2 separate regions of the Homo sapiens genome follow, and region 1 is linked to region 2. The links come from fine-mapping of genetic effects on gene expression. A gene starts in region 2. The other region holds a variant in brackets. All regions are shown on one strand. Distances are from middle to middle. Region 1 has its middle 10 kb from the start of TIPRL. Region 2 holds the start of GPR161 (G protein-coupled receptor 161).

Region 1 (5,382 bases), 32 kb before region 2:
AGACCTGGGAACAGGGAGCAGCTCACAGGAAGTTAGCCTGGGGCCTAAAACAGTCTCCAGGATTTATAGGCCTGAAGAAGGCCTCAGGATCCCTCAGTTTAGTGATGATGAAACTCCTAAACACAAAAACACATTCCCTAAGGGTGTAGTACCTTAGTTGAGTTACTTTTGGTTGAAAGTAAGAGAAACTCTCTGCAAACTAGCTTTAGCAAAGCAGCCTATTCTTAAAAGAAGAGAATGATTTCAGGATTTGGAGTTACCTCTTGCTATGTGAGGAGAAAGCGAATAATCAGGCCTCAAGAGCAAAGGACTGAGGAACTGAAAAACCTGGGGTGCTGGTCAGCTGAACACAGTCTCTCTAACTCTCTCACGGCTCCTCATCTCTCTCTTTTGTTCTCTTCTTCAGTTTAGCTCTCTGCTTCCTTCTCTCTTTTTGCAGACCAGCTCTGTCAGCTTCTCTTTGTGTGTGCTTCCTGCACCCATCCAAAACACAGTTTCCTAATAGACATCTTGATAGCCATTTCTTGGTTCGCCTTTCACATTCTCAAAAGAGAGAATCTGATTGGCTCAGCTTGAGTCAGGTGTCTATCATGGCCCAATCAACCATGACTAGATTTGGTCATGCTGGTATAAGCCCATGGGGTTTTGGGGACAGTGGTTCTCAGAGGCATATGCTCCCACATCCTCAATGTCTATAACTGGCCTTTGTGCTAATTAGGGGAGAAATAAGAGGAGTTTTAATGTGGGACTGCTAGTACAGGCAAGCCCAGTGGATGGGGATAGGGCTGGCAGACAAAGGTAATAGAGTGGAATATGAAAAGAGGAAGGAGTGGCTGAGTGTGGTGGCTCACACCTGTAATCCTAGAACTTTGGGAGGCCAAGGCAGGTGGATCACCTGAGGTCAGGGGTTCGAGACCAGCCTAGCCAACATGGCAAAACCCCTATCTCTACTAAAAATACAAAAATTAGCCGGGTGTGGTGGCACATGCCTGTAATCCCAGCTACTTGGGAGGCTGAGTCAGGAGAATCGCTTGAACCCAGGAGGTGGAGGTTGCAGTGAGCCGAGATTGCACCACTGCACTCCAGCCTGGGCGACAGAGTGAGACTCCATCTCAAAAAAAGAAAAAAGAAAAGAGGAAGGAGAAATGGAAAAAGTTATAAAATTCAACCTGTATTTATTTTACAGTTTTTGTAGTCAAAAGCAGACCTAATGTCCACCCAGCACCCTGGCAAGGTTTGAGGACCCACAAAAGCATGGGTAAAGAGGTAAAGCAAATATTAGGGTATTTCTGGGTAAGGTGAAACTGTAGTCAAAAGTCAAAGATAAAATTACTATATGTAGGCTTACCAAATATGCAAAATAGGAATATCTACTTATAAGTCAGGCTTCTAGGTCTTTCATATCTGCAGTCATAATCCGATATACACTAATTTTGGATTATGAGAAATTAGGAGAATTAACACTTCTACTTTATCTTCTAAACCATTTCTTTGAATTGACAAGGAAAGTGAATTTTCAGCTGTCTGGAGAGCGGATCAGCACCCACCATGTGGCCATTGTCATAGTGGTCCCCAGCTTATGCTGTAATTAGTTCTCTCAGAGCACTCAGCTGGGTTATAGTGGATCATCTTGGAAATCAATAGAATTGTTTCTATTGATTTTTGTCTTTGATGTTATTTTTTGGCAAAGTTTTCATTACATAAACATTTTAATGCTCTGTCATATATATATGTATATATATGTATATATATATACATATATATATATATATATATATATAATACATGTACACATTGTCAGGATAGATTTAAGTGTATGGCATGCAAAGTGGCAAAAAGAGCTGATGGGGCCAGTCGCAGTGGCTCATGCCTGTAATCCCAGCACTTTGGGAGGCCAATGTGGGCAGATCACCTGAGGTCAGGAGTTCAAGACCAGCCTGGCCAACATGGCAAAACCCCGTTTCAACTAAAAATACAAAAAAAAAAAAAAAATTAGCCGGGTGTGGTGGTGCATGCCTATAGTCCCAGCTACTTCGGAGGCTGAGGCACAAATATCGCTTGAACCCTGGAGGCAGAGGTTGCAGGGAGCCGGGATTGCGCCACTGCACTCCAGCCTGGGCAACAGAGCGAGACTCTGTCTCATACAAAAATTAAAAAAAAAACCCAGCTAATGGAACATGAGTAAATAGGTTTATTTGAGAATCATTTATAAAGGGAAACAGCTGCACTATATCATGTTACCATAATTAGTGTTAACTATTGAAGTAACTGTGTCCACTTTATAGAAAACTGGTGTTGTTGGTGGCAGGTGCCTGTAGTCCCAGCTACTGGGGAGACTGAGGCAGGAGAATGGCGTGAACCCAGGAGGCGGAGAGCTTGTAGTGTGAGCTGAGATCGCGCCACTGCGCTCCAGCCTGGGCGACAGAGCAAGACTCTGTCTCAAACAAACAAAAAAAGAAAACTGGTGTTGTTTTAGTGTAAATGGGCATTCATTCGGGTACTCAGGAAAATATAAACATATAAAAGAGCTTGATTCAAATGTTACTTTTAAGGTTGTGAGAAAATCACTAGATAATTTCTTGTAAGACATTAGACCAGGGGTGTCCAATCTTTTGACTTCCCTGGGCCACATTAGAAGAA[GAAT/T]TGTCTTGGGCCACACATAAAATACACTAATGATAGCTGATGAGCAAAAAAAAAAAAAAAAATCTGTGCATAAGTCTCATAATGTAATGTTTTAAGAAAGTTTATGAATTTGTGTTGGGCTGCATTCAGAGCCATCCTGGCTCATCCACATGTGGCCTGAGTGCCATGGGTTGGACAAGCTTGCATTAGACATTTAAAAATGTCTTTCATAGCAATAAACTTTAGTACAGGATAGATTTTTGTATGTGTGTACTTTAATTGAGGTTACCAAAATGCCAAGCTATAAAACTTTAGGAGATGAGCAAAATATCACTACGGGAATTATTTCATCCTAATTTCTGAAGATAGAAATGAAGCAGGTGAACCAGAAATTTCTAAGATAGCTACCAGGGAAACAAAGAATAAAACAAAACCAAGCAGAACTATAATAGGAATTCATGCTCTTTCTGTCCAGCAATGTTGTATGGTCAAAATATTTTTCTTTCTTTTCCCTGCTTATTTTGGGAAGGAGAAAAAGGGTAAAAGAAACTGAAGCAGTTTACATGCAAGGAATTTGAATGGGCAAACACAGTCTTTCTGAAATCATAAGCTTAAGTTCAACCCCTGGTGATAGGAACGAGCTGGTAGAGGGAGGATAAAGGAAGATGAGGGCTGAGATCTAAGTGGATTCCCAAGTGGTGTCAGGCCTCTCTCCTGGTGAGCAAAAGCAGGAGGCTGTTATTGCCGAAGTTAGCTGTGGGCCTGGAAGCAGAGGCCTATCACTGCAGTGTGAGTTCCATGACTGATAGGGAAAGGAATGGAAGGGAAAGAAGGGGAAGGAAAGGTCCCAAGGAAAAGGTCCCAATGGGGTATTGCTATCATGGGATGAGATCAATCAGAGCAAGCTGAGCAGAGAAGAAAAAATTAGGCTTTGGCAAGTGGATTCTTCACTTGAAATGGGAAAAGTTGGCTGTGGCTCACTCCTGTAATCCCAGCAATTTGGGAGGTGGAGGCGGACCGATCACTTGAGGTTAGGAGTTTGAGACCAGCCTGGCCAACATGGTAAAACCCCATCTCTACTAAAAATACAAAAGTTAGCTAGGCACGGTGGTGTGCGCCTGTAATCCCAGCTACTTGGGAGGCCAAGACAGGAGAAAATCCAAGCTACTTGGGAGGCTGAGACAGGAGAATCACTTGAACCTGGCAGGCAGAGGTTGCAGTGAGCTGAGATTGCATCATTGCACTCCAGCCTGGGTGACAGAGTGAGACTCCGTCTCAAAAAAGAAAAAAAAAAAAAAGAAATGGGAAAAGTCTAAACAGGTGTGATGGTTAATACTGAGTATCAACTTGATTGGATTGAAGGATGCAAAGTATTGCCCTGGGTGTGTCTGTGAGGGTGTTGCTAAGGGAGATTAACATTTGAGTCAGTGGGCTGGGAAAGGCAAACCCACCCTTAATCTGGGTGGGCAGAATATAAAGCGGGCAGAAAAACGTGGAAAGACTACACCGGCCTAGCCTCCCAGCCTACATCTTTCTCCCATGCTGGATGCTTCCTGCCCTCAAACATCAGATTCCAAGTTCCTCAGTTTTGGGACTCAGACTGGCTCTCCTTGCTTCTCAGCTTGCAGATGGCCTATTGTGGGACCTTGTGATCATGTGAGTTAATACCTAATAAACTCCTATATATATATCTATATATATATATATATATCTCTCTAGAGATATATATAGATATATATATATCCCAGCATATATATTCATATATATCTATATATCCCAGCATATATATATATCCCACACACACACATATATGTGTGTGTGTGTGTGTGTGTGTGTGTGTATATATCCTATTAGTTCTGTCCCTCTAGAGAACCATGACTAATACAATAGGGGAGGGATTTAAGTGGCTAAGCACCAGGGATATGGAGTTAGGCTGCCTAGGTTCAAATCTTGGCTCTCCATTTGCTCATTGTGATGTGACCTCTGCCAAGCCTCACTTTTTTCATTTTTCTCATTATTATTTCTAGTAATAGCATACCTCATAGTATTGTTAGGAAGATTAAATGAGATATACACAAGTCCCTAACATAGTGCCTCTCAAAGGTGCTCACTCAATACACTATCCATTAGTATTATAGAGTAGCAGCAGTGGCCTTGTGCATTCACAGTGACGCTGTTTCTCAAAGTGTGGTGCTGGAGCTGCACGTACGTTAGAATCATCTGGAATGTTTGACAAAAATCAGATTCCTGTTGCTCCACCCAGAACTGCTGATTCAGAGTCTGTAAGCATGGGATCTAATTCAAGTGGTGGTCTTTGTTTTTAACAAGGTCCTCAGACTAATCTTATATACACTCAACTTGGAGACTCTGTGGACGAAGGCAATCACAGTAGCTACTTACAAGCCGGTACATTCACCAGAGAGAGAGAGCAGAATACACTTGGGTGAAATAGGATGTCCCTACAAGTTGGTAGGCACAGTGCTTTTCTTCTGTTAGCTGTGTGTGTGTGTGCATGCACACATAAACACACATGCACTCTGAGGAGAGAAGAGCTGGAAACTGGTAATAGTCATAATGATAATGATAACTATGATTTATTGGATACCTATTCTGTGCCAGACACCACAATAAGTGTTTTACAATTTGAGTTTAATTCTTAATATGAATAAAATTTAACTCATTCTTTTACATAAAAACATGTTATGATTTCAGATTCAGCTAACCGTATGCAGGTGAGACACCTGGATGTTACCACCATGA
Region 2 (5,382 bases):
TGACAAACCCAAAATGCCTTTCAAAATGTCGTATTAAGAATCACTGAGTGAGATGCTTTCTGTTCCAAGTAACAGAAATAAACCCATACTGATTCAATAAAAATATATGTATATTGATTGGCTCTTGTTTCTGATCAGTCCAGAGGCACATCAGTTTCAGGGAAGTTTCCATCTGAGGTCAAATGGTTTTACCATTCTATCAGTGGAGGCATACTGTAAACAAATAAATAGAAAAATTGATGCATATTTTATAAATTTGGACACATTTTATGTAGAAAAACAACAGAGCTGTGAAAGAGTACATAGATTAGAGAATTTCTTTTAGATTGGTCAGGGGCTGAGTGCAGTGGCTCACATCTGTAATTCCAGCACTTTGGGAGGCCAAGGTGAGAGGATAGCTTGAGCCCAGGAGTTAAAGACAAGCCTGGGCAACATAGCAAGATCCCATCAGGGAAGACTTCTCTAAGGAAGTGACATTTAAGGTGAGATGTGAAGGGCAGGAAGGGCTTGGCCTGTAAAGAGTGGAGGAAATAACATTCCATGTGGAACAAATAGCATATTTCACAGTTTTGCTTTCACCAGTTTTATGTGGACTGCTAGACTGAAATGATATTTTACATAAAATATGTTTTATATATAAATTATTCAACACACATGTGAGGTTCAGTTGGACAAGGCCTCTCATTATCTTACTTTATAAGTCTTTGTGGATGTCTCTAAAACAGAATGGTTTATTAAACTAATTTGGGAAAGGAGAATTAGTGTGTATCTTTCTCTTTTTCTAAAAAAATATAAATACATTCTTGCACAAAATCAGTCACGTTTTTCACAATTGTCACCTATACAATGATATACGGTGAAATAATTACTTTAATAATAATTTGTCTGTTTTCTCTGCATCTGATTGAATTCTGCTCATAGCTCAATATTAGCTCCAGAAGGGAAAAAAATCTTAAGAGAGCAATTGAAAATGCATTTGTTGGCAGCAATTTCCATCCCTGAATGCACAGTAAGTTCTGAGCTTATGAGCTCAGAAAAAAGAAAAATCTTTGTGATAAATAATGCATTTGATAATGAGCAGCAGGAGAAAAAAAGTGTTTTCTGTTGAAGAGTTCAAAATGAAATAGAGTAAGTATGGGAAAAGGTTGCTCAGTATGAAGGACATCTTTCGCATCATGGATGGGTATGGAGCCACAACAGCCGTAACTGTTTATTTTTTATTCTCATTCTCACCATGCCAGTCTGTGGCATATATTTTCAGACCTTTCGTGAATACCAATTTTCAAAAGGGTTTAGTTCTCAGATTCTATGTCACTGGATGATTTACTTACATGACCTCATTTAACCTTTTCAACTCTACAGATAGGAAAGTATGAGTATCCCCATTTTATATATGAATAAGCTGAGAGGAAGGTTAACTCACTCCCTCAGGCTCATAGAGCTTAGCCGACATCTGAGTCAGTGTAAATTAAATAAATATCAGGGATTTCAAAATAAGTGTCTAAAATACTATTAAGAACAGAAAGCTTTAAGCTCCTTCAAGTGTCTGGCTTGCCGCGTGACCTAGACTCTTAAGTGGAGCGTCAGCTTCCAGTTTTTGACCAAATAAAGCATTTATCCCATAGGAATATTAAGGCACCCATTTACTTTTTTCTCCCCATTATCCCATTTGTCCCCAGAGCAATGTGGGTGTTTGGCAGGTGCCAGACAGTAAATTACTGTTCTAAATTGTGCCTCAGTGGCCCAATAATATTAAGGAAGCATCTCCCACAGTGTCAATCTGTAGACAAGGGAATAATTAATGTATTTATCAAAGCAGATGGATTTCAGAGGAATGTGAATCCTGCTCTAAGCACAGCATCAGGGTTTGTTTTTTTTTTTCTGGAGTTTAGTGAACTGGGCTTTGTAACTTCTTACCTGATTATTTTGCTGCCCTGTTTGTCCTTCCTTCTTTCCCTTTTTAGCAGTTCTACTCTGTGCTTCAACTTTTCATCCCCTTATTAAGACTGCTGCATAGAAAACGTAGGAGTCTGGAGACAGGCAGGCAAAGTGGGGAGTGAGGAAGGGAAAACAAACATTCTGAGAAGGAACTGTTCCGTCCCCCGAGCTGACAGCGCCCGCTCTTTGTTTTGTGATGACTGCTCCCTGGCCTTTTGGTTCCGAGGGAGTGCAGGGCAGCAGTGTGAAGACCTGTTTACGTCCACTCCCCACTCCCCGGGGCTGGCTTCGGGACGAATTCACTGTGGTATTAACAGAGCCCGGGACAGAGCCTGGCAGAAGGCAGATGGATGCTCGTGCCCGTCGGCTGGATGAATGAAAGGTGAGCAGCAAAGGCGATACCAGGATCGTCCACGGCGGGACTGGAGGAGGAGAATGGGACTGTGCGGAGCCTGCGGGAAGAATCTGAAAGTGTCTGTGTGATGGAGAGAGACATGGAAAAGGCGACGTCCCAGCGGCTGGAACTGGGGCGGAGGAACGGGAACAGGGAAGGCCTGAGTTAGGCACCACAAAGGTTTTCAGGAGAAAAGTGGGGCGAGCCGAGAGGGTAAGGGCGAGACAAAGAGCAGCAGCCGAGGCTGTTCGTGGGAAGAAATGGGAAAGAAGCAGCCGGGAGGGCGGGCGGACGGACGCGAAGGAAGGGGCGCGGGTGGGGAGGGGCGCCGGGAGCTGGGCGGGGCGGGGCAGTGCGGGGCGCGGGGAGGCGGCTCGGGGCTCCGGGGGCCGGAGGGGCCCGGCCGGGCGTGGGGGGGGCGGGGCGGGGCGCGGGCGCCGCAAAGTTACTTGGCCTGCGCCCGCCCGGGTCCGCGTGCTGGTGGCTGGCCCGCGGGAGGAGCGAAGCGGGGCTCGGTGGGCTGAAACCCGAAACCTCCAGTCCCGGAGCGCGGCGGGGAGGAAGGAAGCGGCGGCGGCGGTGGCCGAGGCGGGGAGGCGGCTGGGCCGGGGCCTGAGCTGCCGCGGCGGCCGCTCCTCGGTGAGCACCCGGCGTGGGGCGCGGGCGCGGGCCCGGGCGGAGAGGGCGGTCCGGATGGAGCCAGGCTAAACTCATTGTGCGAGGCTGAGGGCTCAGGGCGCGGGCCGGGAAGGGTCCCCGCCCCCACGGCGCTCCCTTTCTCCCCGCGCCCCTCTCGGAGGTCAGGGCTGTCCTCCGCCCGCACTGCGCCTTGCTTTGGAGAGCTGGAGCTCTTTGTGGGAAGATGTTGGGGGCGCGCCCCTCCCCTGCGGCCTGGGGCTTCTGAGAGGCCCACCCCATTCTGCTGGGTGCAGCCCGCCCCGTTTCTCCGGCGCCGCCCGAAGCCCCTAAACAGTCCGCTGGATGGGAGGGCGTAGGTGCGTGCCCGGGACTCTGCCGATGCGGGCCGCGCCCCCTGGGGCCAAGAGACTCCACGTCCCGCTCAGGGCAAAGGGTGTGGGGAGAAGCGGTCACGCCCCTCGGCTGGAATCCGTGAGGACCAGGTGAGCAGCCTTCTCCCAGCCGGGACTCAGGGCGCTGTCTCCCCGAGCCTGGGCGGGCGGCGGGTGGCGCGCCCAGAAGTGGCCCGGCGCCGCCGGATGGGCGGCTCTGCCCCTCAGATCTGCGGGAGGGAGATTCGGCTGGTTCTTGGAAAGGGGAGAACTCGACCAGCCCTCGGCGCCTTCTGGGCCAAGCTTAACCCCCGTGCAACCTTTGGACAAAGGCATATGGGATGAGAACGTCTGTTGGGTAAGTGGGGTGTGTCCTGTGCTTCCCGGAGGTCTGCTCACCAGTAACCACATAGCTGCGCATTGGCATCGCTTTATATCACATCTTGGAGGCTATTTTTGCTTGTTATTGTACTTTCATCCCTTTTGCAAAGTGCTTTCATAGAGCAGGTCATTTGATCCACCTCCCGGTGAAGCCGTGAGGAGGTGTGTGGTTTTGGAGGGAAAGAACCTCAGTTCCTTGATTGTCCAATGGAGACACCGATAACCTCCGGTGAGCCTGTCTCAGCGTCCTAGGGGCTGGGGGAGGATGGCCATCCTTGTGGCTCCTCCGTGGAGCCAGGCGTGGATTCAGCCTGGCTTCTTCTCCCCTAGTGACCTGGACCTCCAGATGAGTTCTGGAGAGCTACTGCTTCGGGGAATAGGCGGTTTTCCCTTATAATCTATTTTACTGCAGCCACTGGGAGCAAGTGAAGAGAGGCATTTTTCAGGCCCTCAGGGCAGAAAGAGGAGGTGGGAGGGACCTCAGGTCATAGAGACAGAGGCTCTTCAACTGTAACTGGAATGCATGGCACCCATTTCTGTTACTTCTTTCAGAGCACCTCTCTTCCGGTCCTCCTCCACACCCGTCTTATTTTATACTTGTCAGGTGCTTACAAGCACTTTCATGTACACTTTTTCATTCACACAACAACCTTGTGAAGCTCTACTAGCCCATTTGATAGGTGAGGAAACTGAGGCTCAGGAGAGATGAAGCATTCTTGCCCAGCTAGGTAAGCAGCCCAGATTGAACTCAGATCTTTTGCCTTGGTAGTGCTTTTCACGTGGTTTCCTGATGGCACACAGGTGAGTTCTTTAACTCAGGGCTTCTCCCTGCCCTGTAGCTCCACTGCCATAACATCAAGAATAGAGACCCCTCATTAAGAGGCCCGCTTGACATTTTGGAACTAATCCAAGGCCGCAACGATATCCGAACCGTTCTCTTTGTGTTGCAGCCTGGTGCACTGTGCGTCCTCTGAGAGGTGAAGGAGCACTGTGTGGTCAGAGGGCTGCGAGCTCTCTGTTTGGGTTCCGAGGAAGACAGAATGGGCTGAACTGGAACTGACCTAAATGTCAGCAAGAGGAGGTACAGTTCTGTGGTGTAAACTCCACTGCCAGCAGGGACCAGTCAGGAAGCCTGAGTGCAGGAGGCGGGTGGACAGGAGGGCTGGGTGGGAGCTGTGTGCTGCTAAGCCTGTCTCCAGTAAGGGGGCAGCTGCAGGTGCGGTGGGGCTCCAGCACATGGTTGCCTGATCTTAGTTTTGGGGGAAACTGTAAATTTTTACGGAAAACAAGCTTCATATATTTTTAAAGATAGCAACTGATTCAAAACATTTTTTTTAATGTGCGTGCAGTTTAACCAAATTATGTGTGCAGGCTGCTTGCGTCTTCTGTGTGAGACCTTGGGAAGCACTGACTGTCATTCTGAGATGCAGTAAAGCATGACAGCAGGGGAGAAATGGTGTCTTCTTGCTGTTTTTCTATAAGAACAAAAAACATCAACAGAACTAGAGATAGCTATCAGTGCTACCTGGAGTTTGGAGGAGGGATTGACTTTATGACTCCATACTTCATTCATTCACCCAGTACTCGTCTATGACTCTGTTTCTACACCAAGAGAAAAGGCTTACAACTAGTTTTAATCTATTTCCTTGCACATTTTAT

Evidence for each region. PIP is the estimated chance that this variant, and not a neighbour inherited with it, causes the effect.
Region 1: its variant is the best candidate, but not a certain one, in a credible set for the expression of GPR161 in cerebral cortex (GTEx, PIP 0.85).

What each region holds. Positions count from the first base shown.
Region 1 is chr1:168,165,959-168,171,340 of GRCh38, reverse strand. No RefSeq gene overlaps it. Among named protein-coding and RNA genes, the nearest start is that of TIPRL, 10 kb to the left of the region's middle. The variant GAAT/T (reference allele first, on the strand shown) is at 2,641.
Region 2 is chr1:168,134,328-168,139,709 of GRCh38, reverse strand. It overlaps GPR161 (G protein-coupled receptor 161), which reads left to right and starts at 2,780. Exons shown (of 6, transcript NM_001375883.1): 1 at 2,780-2,971. RefSeq lists silencers at 2,085-2,379, 2,908-3,137.